Homo sapiens: one gene and its partners. The protein of the gene in region 2 purifies or fractionates together with the protein of the main gene of each other region. This does not show direct contact. Each region holds a gene or a part of one and is shown on either strand. Other genes may lie near its edges.

Region 1 (3,500 bases), on a different chromosome or scaffold from region 2:
TTAGATGACTTCTCCCTCACCACCCTAAAAGCTCTTCCACAGACAGGGCCCTTGTCTTAGAGCTCTGTGAACACACTCATGACACAGTGAGTGCTTATAAATACCACAACCACAGATGCCCTGCAGAAGGTCAAGGAGCCCGGCTACAAGGAACTAAAGAAGTGTGGCATACAAGAAAATTAACCAGGTGTGGTGGCGCATGCCTCTGGTCCCAGCTACTTGGGAGGCTGAGGCAGGAGAATTGCTTGAGCCCCAGAGGCAAAGGTTGCAGTGAGCAGAGATCGTGTCACTCACTGCACTCCAGCTTGGGCTACAGAGTGAGACTCCTTCTCAAAAAAAAAAAAAAAAAAAAGAAGATATGTGGCAGGGACAGGGCGGGGGTTTTAAAGGAACTCTAGATACCTCTTTGGTAAGTCCCACAAATGCCCACAGAATTAAAGCTCCCAATCAGAAACCATCTCAATCTCTCCAGGGGGAAAGCAGAAATACTCACCAGGCCTCAATTCACCAAGGGCCTAGACTTGAATATTTCATGATAAAAATAAATACTGCAAATATAACTCTAAAGCTCACTTCCCCAATGTTGTCCTTAGAGAATTAAAAAACTAAACCAAAAGATTCATTTCTACCTCTTCCCCCAACTCTTTTAAAACAGTATTGAAAGGGTTTTCTTGGCCAGGCGCAGTGGCTCACGCCTGTAATCTCAATATTTTGGGAAGCTGGGGCAGCTGGACCACTTGAGGTCAGGAGTTGGAGACCAGCTTTGCCAACAGGGTGAGACCCTGTCTCTACTAAAACAAAAAATACAAAAATTAGCTGGGCATGGTGGTGCGTGCCTGTGATCCCAGCTACTTGGGAGGCTGGGGCAAAAGAACTGCTTGAACCCAGGAGGTGGAGGTTGCAGTGAGATCATGCCACTGCATCCAGACTGAGCAACAGAGCGAGACTCTATCTTGAAAAAAAGGTTTCCTTGAACAACTACCACTTACCTGCTATCTGGGGAGATGATGGGAGGAACAAGCAATTTTCACAACTGGTTTGGTTTTTTTTTTGAGACAGAGTCTCGCTCTGTTGCCCAGGCTGGAGTGCAGCAGCGTGATCTCGGCTCACTGCATCCTCTGCTTCCTGAGTTCAAGCGATTCTTCTGCCTCAGCCTCCCAAGTAGCTGGGACTACAGGCGCACACCACCATGCCCGGCTCATATCTGTATTTTTAGTAGAGACGGGGTTTCACTACATTGGCCACACTGTTCTCAAACTCCTGACCTCGTGATCCACCCATCTCGGCCTCCCAAAGTGCTGGGATTACAGGCGTGAGCCACTGTGCCCGGCCACAACTGGTCTTTTTTAAACGTATGAGCTAAGGATAAAGGCTGGGGTGATGGATGCCGCGGGCCATCTGCAGGGGCTGGAGACAGAAATGAATATTCACCAAGTGCCTCTACCCTGCACTGGATTTGCCCCAAGTACTTTATCCACACAATCCCACGACTACCCTGTGAGGCAGAAGGCATTGTGCCCATTTAATGGATGAGGAAACTGAAGCTCTGGAATGCTAACTGTTTTGCCCAGGGTCACGCAGCAAGGTGGAATTCCAGGCCTGGCTCCAAAGCTGGTGCCCCTTCCTCTGGCCCAGGTGCTGCAGAATAAAACTAAAGAGGTCGGGTGCGGTGGCTCACGCCTGTAATCCCAGCACTTTGGGAGGCCGAGGCAGGTGGATCACAAGGTCAGGAGATTGAGACCATCCTGGCTAACACCGTGAAACCCCATCTCTACTAAAAAAAAAAATACAAAAAATTAGCTGGGCGTGGTGGCGGGTGCCTGTAGTCCCAGCTACGCAGGAGGCTGAGGCAGGAGAATGGCGTGAACCCGGGAGGCGGAGCTTGAACTGAGTGGAGATCGCGCCACTGCACTCCAGCCTGGGAGACAGAGCCAGACTCCGTCTCAAAAAAATAAATAAATAAATAAATAAATAAATAAATAAATAATATGGAAACCATTCTCCCTACCTTTAATTTACTTGGGAGGCTGAGGCAGGAGACTCGCTTGAACCTGATTCTCCTGCCTCAGTCTCCCAAGTAAATGGGATTACAGGTACACGCCACCATGCCCAGTTAATTTTTTGTATTTTAGTAGAGACAGAGTTTCACCATGTTGGCCAGGCTGGTCTTGAACTCCTGACCCCAAGTGATCCACCCACCTCGGCCTCCCAAAGTCCTGGGATTACAGCCGTGAGCTACCATGCCTGGCCCATTCTCCCTACCTTTCAAGACTTCCAAAATGAAGATATTCTACAAGGGGAAAATCTGTCCCTACTCTCAATCTTAGAAATGGCCTATTCCTAAAATAATATCAGAAACTATTTGCAGTGTGTGTGTTTTTTTGTTTTTTTGTTTTGTTTTGTTTTTGAGACAGAGTCTCGCTCTGTTGCCCAAGCTGGAGTACAGTGGCGCAATCTCGGCTCATTGCAAGCTCTGCCTCCCAGGTTCAAGCGATTCTCGTACCTCAGCCTCCCGAGTAGCTGGGTCTACAGGCGACCACCCACACACCCAGCTAATTTTTTTCTATTTTTAGTAGAGATGGAGTTTCACCATGTTGGTCAGGCTGGTCTCAAACTCCTGACCTCAGGTGATCTGCCTGCCTTGGCCTCCCAAAATGCTGGGATTACAGGTGTGAGCCACTGCGTCTGGCCTTTTTTTTTTTTTTTTTTAAGACAGAGTTTCATTCTTGTTGCCCAGGCTGGAGTGCAATGGCACAATCTTAACTCAGTACAACCTCCGCCTCCCAGGTTCAAACGATTCTCCTGTCTTAGCCCACAAAGTAACTGAGATTACAGGCATGCGCCACCACACCTGACTAATTTTGTATTTTAAGTACAGACGGGGTTTCACCATGTTGGTCAGGCTGGTCTTGAGCTCCTGACCTCAGGTGATCCACCTGCCTTGGGCTCCCAAAGTGCTGGGATTACAGGCATGAGGCACCACACCCGGCTCACAATGCTTTATAACACATCAAACAGAGTCAAAACAACTTTTCAAATATTAGGCCTTCAGAACCCTTCTTAACTGAAGGGTAGTTATTAATTACACTGTTTTGCAGATGTGTAACTAACTGCAGGACCACAGAGAGTTGAGACTTTGCCCGAAGCTACCCAGTAAGCCAGTGGCAGAAGTCTCCTAAGGCTCCTGAGGGTCCATCTGCTGCTTTTTTTTTTTTTTTTGAGACAGAGTTTCACCCTGTTGCCCAGGCTGGAGTGCAGTGGCGCGATCTCGGCTCACTGCAACCTCCACCTCCTGGGTTCAGCTGATTCTCCTGCCTCAGCCTCCTGAGTAGCTGGGATCACAGGCATGCGCCACCACGACTGGCTAATTTTTTTTTTGTATTTTTAGTAAAGATGGGGTTTCACCATATTGGCCAGGCTGGTCTCGAACTCCTGAGCTTGTGATCCACCCACCTCAGCCTCCCAAAGTGCTGGGATTACAGGCGTGAGCCACCACGTCC
Region 2 (3,500 bases):
CTGCGCCTCCCTGGGCGAATGACAGGAGCAAATGAGGAGGGGATGGTGATTCAGGTCCTGGAAGCTCAAGGAAGGACTGAGGGTTATCAGGAAAGGAAATTGGAGCCTCGGGGTCCCCAGATGCTGTGGCCATCAGCAGAGGCCACATAGCGTACGTTTTAGAAGTGGAATAGTGGGAGGCTTAAAGTAGTGCTAACAATACCTGATGTGTTACTCCAGCAACTTAAATTCTCATCCAGAGGCTGTTAAAGTCCTCTGAATATATTAACAGTTTTCCTAACCTAAGAAAAGCATTGAACATGCAAAATAGTAAAACTATTTAAATTACTATGTTAACCTTTTAAAGCAATTTTAATAATATTAGTGGGTATTTCTTCATTCTTGTTAGATAACACTATAAAAATATAGTCTTCTCTGTTATGATCAAACTATTTTACATTTTTACTCTTTTATACTTTCAGAAGGATCCTAAAACATTTTCAGCTTATATTTTATTAACTACCTAAGAAATAATTTTATTGTAATTGGGATCAGGTAGCTTGGCTTCTGGAACTTAAATGTCTTGAACTTACTTTACTTCTTTGATTTGATTCTTTTCTTTCTGTAAGACTTTTTTTTCAGCAGTTTTTATTTGATTAAATACAGGCGGATGTCAGATGGGCTTTTTCTACAAAAATGCAGGGAAGTTGCAGAAAGCTGTAAAGATATTAAATTTAATGAGATGTACCTTGATACAGTATGTTTGAATGTAAGTATATATTCACACTTACCTGCTACTTTTTATGGTGAATGGTGTCTGTGTGTTGTGGGGATGCAGATTTTGATTACTAAATGCACAAATGTATTCCTTGTAGATGGTACAAGATCCTTCCCAATTTGATGTTCTTGTTATGCCAAATTTGTATGGAGACATCCTTAGGTGAGTCTGGCTGCAACCTATTTATTTTAGCCTATGATTTACTTATAAACATCCTAAAATAATTATGGCTTAACATTTTCAATTGAGTATTGTGAAATAGAGTATTTGTTGTAACATATGAATTGAATTCTAACAGTTCAGGTTGTGATATGAATGATTACATGTTGGGTGGCTTGTTCCTTCATTGATTTGCCAAATCATTGCTGGGCTCTTTCTCCCTAATCATTATTAGGTCACTCTTCCCAGTTTTTAAATGTTTGATTGATTGATTGATTTTAAGGTTTTGTTATGTATAGCTAGGTAGGTGGGTGGTCATTGTTACTATTTTTTGGTAACTTTTGACATAATTTCAGACTTACAGAAAAGTTGTAAGAATAGTACAAAGAATTCCCTTGTACTCAGCACCCTGATTCCACATTCTCCAGATGTCAGCATTTTATCACATTTACTTTATTACTCCTTCCCACTTTCCCTCCCTTCCTCTTCCTCCTCTCCTTTGTCTGTGCTTCTCTCTCTCTCTCTCTCCCCCCCCGACACACACAGACATAAGATGTTGGCCAAATGGTGATTTTCATTTTTTTTTTTTTTTTGAGGCAGAGTCTTGCTCTGTCGCCTAGGCTGGAGTGCAGTGGCACAATCTCGGCTCACTGCAACCTCTACCTCCCAGGTTCGAGTGATTCTCCTGCCTCCCCTGAGTAGTTGGTATTATTACAGGTGCACACCACCACACCTGGCTAATTTTTGTATTTTTAGTAGGGACGGGGTTTCGCCATGTTGGCCAGGCTGGTCTGGAACTCCTGACCTCAAGTGATCTGCCCACCTTGGCCTCCCAAAGTGCTGGGATTACAGGCATGAGCCACTGAGCCCAGCTGTGGACATGGTTTTCTGTTTTATTCAGTGATATATCCATCATCATAATCATGAATATTGATGCATAGGTTGTCCTAACTTGGCTGATGGGGGTCCCTTCACCATGTCTTCTGTGTCCTTTAGACACGGCCCTTTGTTCTTTGAGCCTTGCCTTGCTTTCTGACACAGTAAGATGCTCGAGGCTCATCTGTATTTTCCTAACCTTTGCCCTGGAATCAGCCATTTATCCAAGGAATGCTACTTCCTTTTAGTGGAGAATGATAATTAAAAACTAAAATCTGGGTGCTAGGTGAGATGTTTTATTTTTAAAAACATTCTTTGAAATGCTTTTCTTCCGCTAGTGACTTGTGTGCAGGATTGATCGGAGGTCTCGGTGTGACACCAAGTGGCAACATTGGAGCCAATGGGGTTGCAATTTTTGAGTCGGTAAGGACCCTGACACCTGAAACAGAACTCAGGTCAGAACAGCGTGTGAACTCAGGAGGAGTTATCTGTATAAGTATGCTTTAACTCCAGTTTTTCAAATTGTCAAAACAAAATGATGCTTTTTTTTTTTCTCGAGACGGAGTCTCGCTCTGTCACCCACGCTGGAGTACAGTGGTGCGATCTTGGCTCACTGCAACCTCTGCCTCCCAGGTTCAAGTGATTCTCCTGCCTCAGCCTCTCAAGTAGCTGGGATTACAGGTGTGAGCCACCACACCTGGCTAATTTTTGTATTTTAGTAGAGATGGGGTTTCACCATGTTGGCCAGGCTGTTCTTGAACTCCTGATCTCAGATGATCCATCCGCCTTGGCCTCCCAAAGTTGCTGGGATTACAGGTGTGAGCCATTGCACCCAGCCTATGTTTGTTTTTATATACACCCATATATAAACATATATATATGTTTGGTTTATCTCTTCATTTCCCTCCAGGTATTTATTATGTATCCTTCCTTCCTTAAAATATTTTACCAAAAATTGACTGAAAAAGATTGTTGGTCCATATTTTTATACTTAAAAAAATTACTTTAGCTCTTTATTTCTCCAAGTCTTTATTTATTTATTTATTTATTTTTGAGCTAGGGCCTTGTTCTGTCACCCAGGCTGGAGTACACTGGTGTGATCATAGCTCACTGCAGGCTTGAACTGCTAGGCTTAAGCAATCCTCCTGCCTCAGCCTCCCAAGTAGCTGGCACTGTAGTCAGGCACCACCATGCCTGGCTAATTGCTAATTTTTTTGTAGAAATGGGGTCTCACTATGTTGCCCAGGCTGGTCTTGAACTCCTGGCCTCAAGTGATCTTCTTGCCTTGGCCTATCAACGTGTTGCGATTACAGGTGTGAGCTATCACGCCCAACCCAGACTTTATTTCTTCAGTCCATATCAGATGAATTGCACGCAGTAGCTTTCAGTGCATATTTTGTATTGCTGAGGAAAGATGGTTAAGACTCCAGCTTCCCCAGAAGAGGACTGTTAGTTTTTGTCTCTCCCTTGATGATGCTACTTTTCCCGATGTGTAGGTTCATGGGACGGCTCCAGACATTGCAGGCAAGGACATGGCGAATCCCACAGCCCTCCTGCTCAGTGCCGTGATGATGCTGCGCCACATGGGACTTTTTGACCATGCTGCAAGAATTGAGGCTGCGTGTTTTGCTACAATTAAGGACGGAAAGGTAACAGGAATCTTGATTTACTTGTGCTGGGTAAAATGCATTGCTTCCATGTGTTTTAT
Region 3 (3,500 bases), on a different chromosome or scaffold from region 2:
CCACAATGGACTGTGGTATGTGATGCAAGTGGTGAGCCAGCTCCTGGACCCCCGCACCTCAGAGTTCACTGCGGCCTTTGTGGGCCGCCTTGTTTCCACCCTCATCTCCAAGGCAGGGCGGGAACTCGGGGAGAATCTAGACCAGATTCTTCGTGCCATCCTCAGTAAGATGCAGCAGGCAGAGACGCTCAGTGTCATGCAGGTAAGAGAGCAGTGGGGAGTGGGCTTCCTACTCCCTGGCTGATAGAAATGAAAATTCGTATTTTGGTCCTGAGTTATTTTATTTTACCCTCTTACTAGCCTTGTAGGACAGTTAAGTAAAATGGGACCTGTCTGATCTGTTTGGCCTAAGAAACATGGACAAGGAAATCTCCCATGTTTTCTTGTCCTGTGGATAATACCCTCAGTGTAGACTGTATTTCTTATCTGACTGGCCAGTTCCCTCTCATCTCCTATGTCTCTGAAATTGATTTCCCTGAAGCAAATGTCCTTATTTTCTCCTAGTCCCTGATCATGGTGTTCGCTCATCTGGTGCACACTCAGCTAGAACCTCTCTTGGAGTTCCTGTGTAGCCTCCCAGGACCTACTGGCAAACCTGCTCTAGAGTTTGTGATGGCTGAGTGGACAAGCCGACAGCACCTGTTCTATGGACAGTATGAAGGCAAAGTCAGGTAGAACCTCATCTTTCTTTTCTGGGCATTCTGCCACCACTCATATTTCTTTTTTTTTTTTTTTTTTTTTTTTTTTTTTGAGACAGTCTCGCTCTGTCGCCCAGGCTGGAGTGCAGTGGCACAATCTTGGCTCACTGCAACCTCCACCTCCTAGGTTCAAGCAATTCTCCTGCTCCTGCCTCAGCCGTCCGAATATTACACACATGCACCACCATACCCAGTGAATTCTTTGTGTGTGTGTTTTTAGTAGAGAGAGGGTTTCACCATGTTGGCCAGGCTGGTCTTGAACTCCTGACCTCAAGTGATCCACCCACTTCGGCCTCCCACAGTGCTGGGATTACAGGTGTGAGCCACTGCTCCTGACACATATTTCTTTTTTTTCCTGATTTGCTCCATTGATTTTTGTTTGACATTTCAAATGGCTCTCTGTATTCCCTTTTCCCTGTCTTTCTTTATTGCTAACGCACATATGTGAATAGCTGCCATCTTGAAATCCCCAAAAGACAGTCAACACAGGTAGACTATATATTTCTGGTCTCTGTTTACAAGAGATCCCTTCTCTACCACAGACTTCACACAGCTAAGTGCTGCTAGTGGCTTATTTTCCTTTATAAGCCCAAGCCTTGGCCAGGCACAGTGGCTCACACCTATAATCCCAGCACTTTAGGAGGCTGAGGCGAGCAGATCACCGGAGGTCAGGAGTTCAAGACCAGCCTGGCAAACATGGTGAAACACTGTCTCTACTATAAATACAAAAAATAGCTGGATGTGGTTGTGGGTGCCTGTAATCCCAGCTACTCGGGAGGCTAAGGCAGGAGAATCGCTTGAACCAAGGAGGCAGATCACGCCATTGCACTTCAGCCTGGGCGACGAGCGAAATTGTCTCAGAAAAATAAAAATAAAAAACCCAACCTTCTAACCCTGGCTTCCTAACTTTTTATCCTGGATTTTTATACCACTGATTCTTATCACCTCGTTGCACCTTACAATATGGTGCAACCTTAGCTTTGTTCAAGAAGAACAGGTCACCTGTAATCCCGGCACTTTGGAAGACTGAGGTGGGCGAATTGCTTGAGACCCACCCGGGCAACATGGTGAAACCTGTGTCTACCAAAAAAATACAAAAATTAGCCAGGCACGGTGGCGCATGCCTATAGTCCCAGCTACTTGGGAGGCTGAGGTGGGAGGATCACCTGAACCCAGGGAGGTCAAGGCTGCAGTGAACCATGATCACACCACTGCACTCAGCCTGGGTGACAGAATGAGACCCTATCTCAAAAACAACAACAACAACAACAACAACAAAAAAGCACAGATCTCATTAAACCACCTCATGAACTCTAAAATCTCATTTTCAGCTGAACTCTCTTAGCTCTCCTAATTAGTTGTTAACGGAATTTTCACTATCAAATAGAGGGTCTTAGGACATAATTGCTTATCTCCTTGGAGTGAACTCGAGATGGGCGGCTGATTGACCTTTTTTTGGATCTTCCTTGCCAGCTCTGTGGCACTCTGTAAGCTGCTCCAGCATGGCATCAATGCAGATGACAAACGGCTACAGGATATCCGTGTGAAGGGAGAGGAGATCTACAGCATGGATGAGGGCATCCGCACCCGCTCTAAGTCAGCCAAAAGTGGGTGCTGCTGCGATTCTTCCAATCCTCTCCCTATACGAAGGGGCTAAGGATACCTGGGTGAAGGGAAGGAATGCACTGTGGTGTATATTTTTAAAACAATTGTTGGTGATGGGTTTGATAAAGAAGAAGCAGGAAACTTAGGTAAAAGGGATCAGAACATACGGTTTCTTCCTGTTGTGGAAAATGGACAAAAATAGGCCGGGCATGGTGGCTCACGCCTGTAATCCCAGCACTTGGTGGGAGGCCAGAGCGGATGGATCACTTGAAGTCAGGAGTTTGAGACTAGCCTGACCAACATGGTGAAATCCCGTCTTTACTAAAAATACAAAAATTAGCCAGGCATGGTGGTGGGCGCCTGTAATCCCAGCTACTTGGGAGGCTGAGGCAGGAGAATCGCTTGAACCTGGGAGGCAGAGGTTGCGGTGAGCAAAGATCGTGCCACTGCATTCCAGCCTGGACAACAAAATGAGACTCCGTCTCAAAAAAAAAAAAAAAAAAAAAATGCAGGCGTGGTGGCTCACACCTGTAATCCCAGCACTTTGGGAGGCCGAGGTGGGTGGATCGCCTGAGGCCGGGAGTTCGAGACCAGCCTGACCAACATAGAGAAACCCCGTCTCTACCAAAAATACAAAGTTAGCCAGGCATGGTGGCGCATGCCTGTAATCCCAGCTACTCGGGAGGCTGAGGCAGGAGAATCGCTTGAACCCGGGAGGTGGAGGTTGCAGTGAGCCAAGATCACGCCATTGCACTCCAGCCTGGGCAATAAGAGCAAAACTCTGTCTGAAGAAAAAAAAAAGACAAAAATAGTCTCAGGCACCAAGCATCCCAGCTTCCAGCTTCATTCAGAAGCGTGGGCACAGATAGTCAGCATGTCTTTGTTACTGAGTTGCCTTTGGCCTGTAACTCCAATGATTTGCAGGTAGGGAGTATAGAGCTGCTATCTTTAATGTAGATTTATAATTACCTCCGCTGTCTCTCAAATTCTAAGTCATTGGGACTGGAGTACTGGCTCTATACAGTTCCTTGGTTTCAGAGCTTTATTACTAACAAGACTGTATCTCCTTTAATCCCTGAACTCTCATCTCTCCCAGCTTCTGAACTGTTACAATACCAAACAATAAAGTTATTTAACTTTAAGTCACTCTTTGGAGACTGGATATAGTCAGGTACAGTGAAAGTCTGAGGGGTGGTG
Region 4 (3,500 bases), on a different chromosome or scaffold from region 2:
ACCAATCCACCTCAGCACAGACCCTTTACGGGTGTTGGGCTGGGGGACGGTCAGGTCTTTCTCATCCCACGAGGCCATATTTCAGACTATCCCACGGGGAGAAACCTTGGACAATACTCTGTGTTCAAGGGCAGAGGTCCCTGCAGCTTTCTGCAGTGCATCGTGCCCCTGGTTTATTGAGACTAGAGACTGGCGATGACTTTTACCAAGTATACTGCTTGGAAACATTGTGTTAACAAGGCACTTCCTGCACAGCCCTAGATCCCTTAAACCTTGATTTCATACAACACAGGTTTTTGTGAGCTCCAGATTGGGTCAAAGTGGCTGGGTCAAAGCTACAAATTAACAACATCTCAGCAAAGCAATTGTTCAAAGTACAGGTCTTTTTCAAAATGGAGTCTCTTATGTCTTTCCTTTCTATATAGACACAGTAACAGTCTAATCTCTCTTTTCCCTACACATCTGGCTAATTTTTGTATTTTAAGTAGAGACGGGGTCTCGCCATGTTTGCCAGGCTGGACTCGAACTCCTGACCTCAAGTGATCCGCCCCCGCCCCCCCCCACCCCCAAAACTTTGGCCTCCCAAAGTGCTGGGATTACAGGTGCAAGCCCCCTCACCTGGCCGGGAATCTCATGCAGTGAGCATTTATAAAATAATGACTGTCACTTGCTGAAGGCGTTCCACACGCCAGACACTGGGTGGAGCCACTTATGGAGAACATGACAGAGGTCCCTTGGTGTGATGTGATGATGTCTGTGTTTCAGTTGGGGTATGTGAGTGAGCTCAGACAAGGTTGCCTGAGATCATTCAGTCAGGGGCACGTGGGGTGAGAGTGGGCCCACAGGACTGACCGTGCCGCTTCTCACCCTCAGGGACTATGTCACCGGTGGGGCTTGCCCCAGCAAGGCCACCATCCCTGGGAAGACGGTCATCGTGACGGGTGCCAACACAGGCATCGGGAAGCAGACCGCCTTGGAACTGGCCAGGAGAGGTAAAATCTCCCCTGCTTTGGCTCTCAGAGAGATATCTGTACATCCATGCTCACTGCAGCATTATTCACAGTCCGGAGGTGGAAGGAACCCAGGCACCCATCCACAGATGAACAGGGAAACAGAATGTGGCTTCTATAGACAGGGGCATATGATTCAGCCTTAAAAAGGAAGGGCATTCTGGCCGGGCGCGGTGGTGCACGCCTGTAATCAGTACTTTGGGAGGCCAAAGCTGGCGGATCACGAGGTCAGGAGTTCGAGACCAGCCTAACCAACATGGTGAAACCCCCTCTCTACTAAAAATACAAAAATTAGCCAGGAGTTGTGGTGGGCACCTGTAGTCCCAGCTGCTTGGGAGGCTGAAGCAGGAGAATCGCTTGAACCTGAGAGGCAGGGGTTGCAGTGAGCAGAGATGGCGCCACGGCACTCCAGCCTGGGTGACAGAGTGAGACTCAAAAACAAAACAAAACAAAGCAAAACAAAAAAAAGGGCATTGAAACAGATGAACCTTGAGGACATTCCATGAAGTGAAATAAGCCAGTCGACAGAAGAGCAAATACGGTATGATTCCACTTACAGGAGCTACCTACAGTTAAATTCATAGAGAAGTTGGAATGGTGCTTGCCAGGGGTCAGGAGGGGAGGGGAGAATGGGGAGTTACTGTTTAATGGAAACGGAAGTTTAGTTTGGCAAGATGAAACAATTTGAGAGATGGATGGTTGTAATGGTTGCACAACATTAGGAATTATTATTATTGTTTTTTTTTTTTTGAGATGGAGTTTTGCTCTTGTCGCCCAGGCTGGAGTGCAGTGGCATGATCTTGGCTCACTGCAACCTTCGCCTCCCGGGTTCAAGCAATTCTCCTGCCTCAGCCACCCGAGTAGCTGGGATTACAGGCATGCAACACCACACCCAGCTAAGTTTGTAATGTGTTGGCCAGGCTGGTCTTGAACTCCTGACCTCAGGTGATCCACCTGCCTTGGTCTCCCAAAGTGCTGGGATTACAGGTGTGAGCCACCATGCCCGGCCCAGCCATAAATGTTTTTAATACCAATGAACTGGACACTTAAAAATGGCTAAGAGGGCGGGTCTCGGTGGCTCACATCTATAATTCCAGCACTTTTGGAGGCTGAGGCAGGAGGATCACTTGAGGCCAGGGGTTCCAGACCAGCCTGGACACCATAGCAACACCCCCATCTCTACCAGAGTTAGCCAGGCATGCTGGCACAGGTGGTACCTATAGTCCCAGGTCACTTGAGCCTAGGAGTTCAAGGCTGAATGAGCTGTGATGGCGCCAGCACTCCAGCCGCGGCAGCAGAGTGAGACTGACTCAAAAAAAAAAAAATAATAATAAACAAAAAGAAAAGGGGGTTAAGATGATAAATTTTAAGTGATTTGTATTTTACCACAACAAAAAAAATTGGAGGCTGGGCATTGTGGCTTATTTGTAATCCCAGTACTTTGGGAGGCCGCGGGGTGGATCACCTGAGGTCAGAAGTTCAAGACTAGCTTGGCTAACATGGTGAAACCGCTGTCTCTACTAAAAATAAAAAAATAAAAAATTAGCTAGTTGTGGTAGGTGCCTGTAATCCCAGCTACTCGGGAGGCTGAGGCAGGAGAATTGCTTGAACCCAGGAGGTGGAGGTTGCAGTGAGCCGAGATTGCGCCACCGCACTCCAGCCTGGGTGACAGAGTGAGACTCCATCTAAAAAAAAAAAAAAAAGGAGAGGATGGGGAATCCTCTTGCCTTGGCCTCCCAAAGTGCTGGAATTACAGGTGTGAGCCACCGTGCCCGACCAATTCAGTGATGTTTAGTATAGTCACAGAATGATGCAACCATCTTTAAAATCAATCTTAGAACATCTGTTACCCTAGAAAGAAACCTGCTCACTGTAACTATCAAGCTGTAATTCCCTCTCCCCACCCCCTGCCCTAGAAAACCAAGAATCTATTTTCTTTCTCTATGGATTTGCCTATTCTGGGCGTTTCATAGGTGTGAAATCATATACATAGAATTCATGTAAATGGGATTGTACGCTGTGTGGTCTTTCGTGTCTGGTTTCTTTCCCCGAGCACAGTGTTTCTGACGGTCATCCTTGCTGTAGCATGAGCCAGTGCTTCACTCCTTTTCACGGCCGTCTAATATTCCATCTCTATGGATGGACCACATTTTGTTGTCCCTTCATCCACAGATGGGCATTTGGTTGTTTCTACCTTTTGGCTTTTGTGAAGAATGCCGCAGTGAACATTGGTGGATGTGTTTTTGTGTAGACGTATGTTTTCATGTCTCTGGGGTCAGTACCCAGGAGTGGATTATTAATTTAAATCTTTTTCCATCCTGGGTTTTCAGGAGGCAACATCATCCTGGCCTGCCGAGACATGGAGAAGTGTGAGGCGGCAGCAAAGGACATCCGCGGGGAGACCCTCAATCACCATGTCAACGCCCGGCACCTGGACTTGGCTTCCCTCAAGTCTATCCGAGAGTTTGCAGCAAAGATCATTGAAGGTAG
Region 5 (3,500 bases), on a different chromosome or scaffold from region 2:
AGGTGTGTGCCACCACACCCAGCTAATTTTTTTTCTTTTCGTTTTTCAGACAGGGTCTCACTCTGTCACCCAGGCTGGAGTGTAGTGACATAATCATGACTCACTACAGCCCCAACCTCTGGGGCTCAAGCAATCCTCCCACCTCAGCCTCCCAAGTAGCTGGGACTACAGGCATGCATTACCATACCCAGCTAATTTTTTGTAGAGATGGGGTTTCACTATGTTGCCTAGGCTGGTCTCAAACTCCTGGGGCTCAAGCGATCCTCCTGCCTTGAGCCTCCCAAAGTGCTGGGATTACAGGTGTGAGACATCTTGCCTGGCTCTTATTTTTTTTCTTTTCTTTTCTTTTTTTTTTAATTTTTGAGACAGAGTCTCGCTCTGTCACCCAGACTGGAGTAAAATGCTGTGATCTCAGCTCATTGCAACCTCTACCTCCCGGGTTCAAGCGATTCTCATGCCTCAGCCTCCCAAATAGCAGGGATTATAGGCAGTGCACCACCACACCTGGCAAATTTTTCTATTTTTAGTGGATGGGGTTTCACCATGTTGGCTGGGCTGGTCGTCTTCAACTCCTGACCTCAAGTGATCCACCTGCCTCGGCCTCCCAAAGCGCTGGGATTACAGGCGTGAGCCACCAGCGCCCGGCCCCGGCTGTTATTTTCTAAAGTGAACGTGTAGGTTTTTAAAACTTAAAAAAAAAAAAAAAACAACAAATGTGTATTTTAAAACTCACTGTATACCTGAAAGAGAACTTCCTTATTTTAACTTCTTGCTTATCAATTTATTAACTAAACTAGCAAACATCCAATAGGAACACAGCTCAAACATGTTCTTGTGAAGATCTGTTTCCTACCTTTTGAATACACAGGAAAATATAGTAGAGCACATCTGGGTCATAGGGTTCACCTTCTCCATTTCGAGCTTCCCGTGTCATTAGACAGAGCCCATAATTCAACTCTGCCACAGCAGAGGAGATGAGATCTTCCTGGAATCGCAGCAGTTGGCGCCCTGCAACGGAAGCCTCAAAAATGAATGAAGGTCCTGGGGGTCCATATCTGGAAGGCTCAGAACAGATACTGCCCATCAGGGTGCTGGGATAGAAATGCTCACTTGTATCTACTAGAATGTTTCATGCCTGTAATGTCAGAACTGGCCTATAACATGAGTATATGAGCCTAATGCCAAGAAAGAAGGGCTTGAGTGCCTATCCCTGGTTCCCATTTCCTCCCAGAAGCCACTCTGCTTAGGTCTGGTAGGGTCAACTCCTGAAACCCGTATGTCTAAAAATGCCTGGTTTTGGGCAAACCCCACATATCCTGCTTATTATGTACACAAGGTCAGTACTGCTTGTTACTAGGCTTGAATTCAACATACTATTACAGATGTTGCTCTCTTGTCCCCAAGACAGGAGACACCACTTTTCTGGCATTTTGTCCTCCTGTTACTTTAGTACCATTGCATTTTAGACACAGCCCACTCTTCTTCCAAGACACTCACTCCCAATGGGTGCCAATCTGTTCTGAGCATCCTTCTCTAGTTCAGCATTCTTGGTCTGGGCCCAGTTTTTCCATACTTCAAGCCCTTCTTCTGGCTTCAAAGAATTTGGAAGCAGAAGTTCTGGGGAAGGCTGTGGCTGTGACTGTGGTTCAACTTCAGCAACCTGGACAGTTTGAGCCTATAGGAGAGAAACCATGAAAATGTGTCAATATTGTTTTATATTAGATCCTTCTGCAAAATTGCCAGAAAAATGTTATGTATAGTTCATTTATTTAAGAAAATATTTCTCTACTCATTGCTGTCCTACTTTTAAGAAGCTTTGGAGTTCTACCTCTTGCCCCAGGGACAGCAAAAGCAGCACTGCAACTGGGCTAGTGCAGTGCTTCTCAGCCTTGGCTGCACTTTTAAATGTTTTTTTTTTTTTTTTTTTTTGAGACGGAGTTTTCCTCTTGTTGCTCAGGCTGGAGTGCAATGGCGCAATCTCAGCTCACTGCACCCTCCGCCTCCCGGGTTCAAGTGAGTCTCCTGTCTCAGCCTCCCGAGTACCTGGGTTTACAGGCATGCACCAACACGGCCAGCTAATTTTATAATTTTAGTCGAGACGGAGTTTCGCCATGTTGGTCAGGCTGGTCTTGAACTCCCAACCTCAGGTAATCTGCCCGCCTCAGTCTCCCAAAGTGCTGGGATTACAGGCGTGAACCACTGTGCCCGGTCAAATCTTTTATTTAAAAACACTAATAGCCAGACTTACCCCAGAATCTCTCTGAGGGGGAGCCAAGGTATCAATTGTTTAAAAACTCCTTGAGTAAGATTGCACCACTGCACTCCAGCCTGGTGATAGAGCGAGACTCTGTCTCGAAAAAAGAAAAAAGAAAAAACAAAACAAAACAAAAAAACTCCTCAAGTAAAAAAGTAATTCTAATGTTTGGTCACCACTGAGAACTACTGGCTCAAAGCACTGCTCCCACAGTCTTTAATGTGCAAACAAATCACTTGGGGATTTTATCAAAATGCATATTCTGATTGAAAAGGGTAGGAACTGAGACAACATTTCTTTCTTTCTTTTTTTTTTTTTTGGCGGGGAAAGAGTTTCGCTCTTGTTCTTGGATGCTGGAGTGCAATGGCAGGATCTCGGCTCACCTCAACCTCTGTCTCCCGGGTTCAAGCTATTCTCCTGCCTCAGCCTCCCAAGTAGCTAGGATTACAGGCATGTGCCACCACGCCCGGCTAATTTTGTATTTTTAGTAGAGATGGGGTTTCTCCATGTTGGTCAGGCTGGTCTTGACTCCCATCTTCAGGTGATCCGCCCTCCTCAGCCTCCCAAAGTGCTGGGACTACAGGCTTGGGCCATCGGCCGAGAGCACTGATTCTTAAACTGGGTCTCACCTTGAAATCATCTGGATTGCTTTAAAAAAAAAAAAAAAAAAAAACCCACCCTGGCCGGGTGCAGTGGCTCACACCTGTAGTCCCAGCACTTTGGGAGGCCGAGGTGGGTGGATCACGAGGTCAAGAGACTGAGACCATCCTGGCTAACACGGTGAAACCCCATCTCTACTAAAATACAAAAAAATCAGCCGGGTGTGGTGGCGGGCGCCTGTAGTCCCAGCTACTCAGGAGGCTGAGGCAGGAGAATGGCATGAATCCAGGAGGCGGAGCTTGCAGTGAGCCGAGATCGCACCACTGTACTCCAGCCTGGGTAACAGAGTGAGACTCTGTTCACAAAAAAAAAAACCAAAAAAAAAAAAAAAGAAAGAAACCTCACACTTGGGCCTTATCTCCAGCCATTGTAAGGTAGAGGCACATTGTCAGTATTTTTAAAAGCTTCCCATGTGATTTTTTTTTTTTCCCTCTGAGATGGAGTCTTGCTCTTTCGCCTAGGCTGGAGTGCAGTGGCACGATCTCGGCTCACTGCAACCTTCACCTCCCAGGTTCAAACGATTCTCCTTTCTCAGCCTCCCGAGTAGCTAGGATTACAGATATGCACCACCATGCCCAACTAATTT
Region 6 (3,500 bases), on a different chromosome or scaffold from region 2:
ATGAAGTAATGCATACCAACTGTCTAGTGTGAAGCCTGGTGGACAGTAAACATACAGCAAGTGTTCCCACAGTAATATTTGCATTTTGTTGTGGAGACTTTTTAAATGTTGGGCTGAGCAGTTAAAATTGAAGTAAGCCAGATAATGCAAATGAGGTATTTTTTTCTTCAAGTAGTAGAATCATCAAAGCTGTGATTAAAGATAATTCTTGCATCAGGGAACAAGGTGGGTTAGAGGGAAAAAAAAAATCAACTAGAGACATATCAGTTAAAAGGCTATTGCTATTACAATAGCTGTAGCTTTGTAGCTTGAAGTAAGAACCAGAAGAAAGTAGTAGCAGGAGAAATAAAAAGGAGTGGACACATTGAGGAGGCTGTTCAGAGGAGAAATGTATAGGACTTAGGAGCTAATAGTAGAGAGATGATCAGGAAAAATAAGTATTAAGGTGAAATTTTAGACTTACATCAAAATGATTAGGGTAATGTTGATGCACATTACATGGGCAGTGAAGAGGCAGCTTCCAGTCTTTCATCCATTAAGGTTTAGGTACTGATAAAACATCTGGGTAGAATTTTTCAGCAGTGATGGAAAGCTTTGAAAAACAAAACAGAAGATGTGGATTTGGGAATTACCTCCCTAGAAGCAGGAAGAGATGGCATCATCAAGGGAGAGGAGTATAGAGAGGCATTATGAAAAACAAACTTTAAATAGGTATATAGTATGATTTTTATTCATTATGTAATGAAAGAAAAGGTAGTAGTGTCACTGAAAATAACTTTTGGCATTAACTCTCATTCTGATAGAATGCTTATTTTAACAATAAGTTATTTTTTTTCTTTCATGGTTAAAACAATATAGGTGATGAAACAACATCTCAGGTAAGGGGTTGACTACGCTTGGCTTTTTACCTTAAAAGAAGAAAACATTTGTGATTTTGGTATTATTTCAAACTAATGTCTGATTCTGTACCAAAATGGTGAAGTATATAGTTTATTCTCCTTTGCCACCCAGGGATTCTTTATGAAAGTTTGAAAGCACTGCATTTCCAAAAGACAAGGTTTAGAGAAGTTCTAGAGTAATTGATAAATGGAGAACTGTCAAATGAGAACCATACATATTAGTTCTGTTTTGTAAAAGGGAGGGTGAAAAGTGAATTTAAGTCTATAAAAATGAATTATATGTAATTCTCTAAATTCCAGATATCAGATCCCATGATTTCTAGGCCTGCCAGTTCACTTAAATGGCATTAACCATTATTTTTTTAAATTATTGATGTTTGGATTCAACATTTCCTTTTAGGTGTTTCAAAATCTTGAGTGCTAATGGTGAGGCAAAAGTATTCAGACCAAGGGACCGTGATGATATTGTAAAAACTGTGATTGAACCGATGGCATCAGAAGGCTTGAGAACCATATGTCTTGCATTCAGAGATTTTCCAGCAGGAGAACCAGAACCAGAGTGGGATAATGAAAATGATATTGTCACCGGCCTTACATGCATTGCTGTTGTGGGGATTGAAGATCCTGTGAGACCTGAGGTGGTGAAACATTCTGTGTTCTGCATGTGCAGAATCTCATAACTATAGAGGACCTAGGCCTTAATTGTAACCAGTTTTCTAGTAAAATTCTTGGTGTTTGTGATTTTTTTTTTTTCTGTGTGAACCCAAGATAAATGAAATAATAGTACCTACAGTGCATATGCTAGCTTTTATGGTTTTTAAAGACAGTGTCTCTTTGGGATCCTATGTGTTCATAGCACCATAACCTAGCACAGTGCCTTGAAGTGGGTAGAATTTTCAGTTATTATTTATCTTAAATTAAATAATAGGTGCCATTATTTGTTTTCACAGTCTCTAGACTAGCATTGTCTAGTAGAGCTTTCTGTGATAATAGGAATGTTCTGTATATTGTTTAGTACAGTAGCCACTAGCCATGTGTGAATACTGACTTCTAGTTTTCAGTGGCTAGTGCAACTAAAAGACAGGATTTTTAAATTTTATTTAATTCAAATTAAAATATCTTGCTAGTAGTTGTCATATTGGATGGCATGCAGCTCTAGACTGATTTCCCTCTTTAATTTTTTTTTGCTATTTGGTTTTTCACCTTTTTTAAGTTTGTTGAACAACTACTGTGTGCCAGGCACTATCCTAAGGTACTAGAGACTTAAGAGTTTTGAGATCTGATCACCGGCCTCAAAGAAGTTACTGTCTTATGTGGGACGAACCAAACACGTGATTATTGCAACCCAAGATATTACTACCTTGCTGGGTATATACAGAGCATGTTATATGAGCAGAGAACACGAGTTCCCAACCTAGCCTAATAGCATCTTTTTATTGAGTTCTCACTGTGTGCCATATACTTAAGCCATGTGTTTTACAAGTAATTTTTTTAAATGTCTACCTTTATGAGGTATGCATATTATTACTCTTATTTGGCAGATTTTTAAGAATCAAAAATGTATAGAGCGTTAGACATGTTTAAAAATACATTTTTAAAAAATCGAGAATGTATAGAGCATAGACCTAGTGTGTTAAAATACCAGCTTTGTCTAAAACACATGTGCTTAAAAGACTACTGTACTGTATTGACCACTGGAGGGGTCAGGTAAGACTTCCTAGAGGTTAATTACCTGATCTGATTCTTAAAGAAGGAGGAAGTATTATCTAAACCAAGAAAGAGAGCGAGCAGTTAGGTATATTCTGAGCAAAGAAGCAACATAAATAAAAGCACTAACAGAAAACCACTTTTGTTCAGTGACTTTATCAGCTAATTGATTCAAAACCTAATGTGTAGCACTCTTTTAGGAGCTGGAAATACTGCAGTGACCAGAATAGGCTTGAGATTTATATTCTAGAGGAAGAAGACAGCTAAGTAGGTAGAATGATAGATACATGGACACCATGTCAAGTGAAAAATGAATTCTGGGAGGAATAAGACTTGGTCCCTGTTCTCATAGGCCTTAAGATATTCTGGGTGGCAGGGTGGCATATCAGGGGGGATGATATTAAATAAGACAATTACAAGTGCAGAAGGGCTATATAAGATATGCACGGTGTAATGAAATAAAGTAATGGAGAGAGACTGCATTAAGAATTTCTGAGGATGTGGCATTTGAGTTGCAATCTGATGGTTCATAGTGGGTCTGCCATGTAAATAGCTGCAAGAAGAGCATTCCAAGCAAAACGAGAAATGCAAGTGAAAGTGAGAAAAGTAGCTATTTTAAAGGTGGAAAAGAGGCCAGTGTGGCTATAAATGTAAAGAAGAAAGGGGAGACGAGATGATCTCTGGCCTTACTGGGCTGTGAGGACTCTGAATTTTCTGAAATTCAGGCTGGGAAGTGACATGATTTATGTTGTTAAAATACTATTTTGGGTACGTGTAAGACAGGGATTAGAGATGAAGAAGAGTAGAAGCAGGGAAGCTAATGAGATTATTGCAGTGATCCCAGGCAAGAGATGATCATGGCTTGGCCCACAGTTGTGGCATAGGAGATGGAAA

What was found.
Region 1: the proteins of IDH3A (region 2) and ACO2 fractionate together in Homo sapiens (co-fractionation; one large-scale study listed by BioGRID). This does not show direct contact.
Region 3: the proteins of IDH3A (region 2) and IPO9 fractionate together in Homo sapiens (co-fractionation; one large-scale study listed by BioGRID). This does not show direct contact.
Region 4: the proteins of IDH3A (region 2) and RDH13 purify together in Homo sapiens (affinity purification with mass spectrometry, with the first as the bait; one large-scale study listed by BioGRID). This does not show direct contact.
Region 5: the proteins of IDH3A (region 2) and QRICH1 fractionate together in Homo sapiens (co-fractionation; one large-scale study listed by BioGRID). This does not show direct contact.
Region 6: the proteins of IDH3A (region 2) and ATP2B1 fractionate together in Homo sapiens (co-fractionation; one large-scale study listed by BioGRID). This does not show direct contact.

The regions. Positions count from the first base shown.
Region 1 is NC_000022.11:41,475,617-41,479,116, reverse strand, and holds part of ACO2 (aconitate hydratase, mitochondrial precursor), read right to left. Parts: intron 1-3,500. UniProt on the Homo sapiens protein: Catalyzes the isomerization of citrate to isocitrate via cis-aconitate.
Region 2 is NC_000015.10:78,162,862-78,166,361, forward strand, and holds part of IDH3A (isocitrate dehydrogenase [NAD] subunit alpha, mitochondrial precursor), read left to right. Parts: intron 1-645; coding exon 646-748; intron 749-854; coding exon 855-919; intron 920-2,130; coding exon 2,131-2,215; intron 2,216-3,288; coding exon 3,289-3,441; intron 3,442-3,500. UniProt on the Homo sapiens protein: Catalytic subunit of the enzyme which catalyzes the decarboxylation of isocitrate (ICT) into alpha-ketoglutarate.
Region 3 is NC_000001.11:201,870,657-201,874,156, forward strand, and holds part of IPO9 (importin-9), read left to right. Parts: coding exon 1-202; intron 203-504; coding exon 505-671; intron 672-2,171; coding exon 2,172-2,305; intron 2,306-3,500. UniProt on the Homo sapiens protein: Nuclear transport receptor that mediates nuclear import of proteins, such as histones, proteasome and actin. Serves as receptor for nuclear localization signals (NLS) in cargo substrates.
Region 4 is NC_000019.10:55,056,649-55,060,148, reverse strand, and holds part of RDH13 (retinol dehydrogenase 13 isoform 1 precursor), read left to right. Parts: intron 1-873; coding exon 874-992; intron 993-3,340; coding exon 3,341-3,496; intron 3,497-3,500. UniProt on the Homo sapiens protein: Retinol dehydrogenase with a clear preference for NADP. Oxidizes all-trans-retinol, but seems to reduce all-trans-retinal with much higher efficiency. Has no activity toward steroids.
Region 5 is NC_000003.12:49,045,572-49,049,071, forward strand, and holds part of QRICH1 (transcriptional regulator QRICH1), read right to left. Parts: intron 1,676-3,500; coding exon 1,498-1,675; intron 1,009-1,497; coding exon 854-1,008; intron 1-853. UniProt on the Homo sapiens protein: Transcriptional regulator that acts as a mediator of the integrated stress response (ISR) through transcriptional control of protein homeostasis under conditions of ER stress.
Region 6 is NC_000012.12:89,614,839-89,618,338, reverse strand, and holds part of ATP2B1 (plasma membrane calcium-transporting ATPase 1), read left to right. Parts: intron 1-1,299; coding exon 1,300-1,537; intron 1,538-3,500. UniProt on the Homo sapiens protein: Catalyzes the hydrolysis of ATP coupled with the transport of calcium from the cytoplasm to the extracellular space thereby maintaining intracellular calcium homeostasis.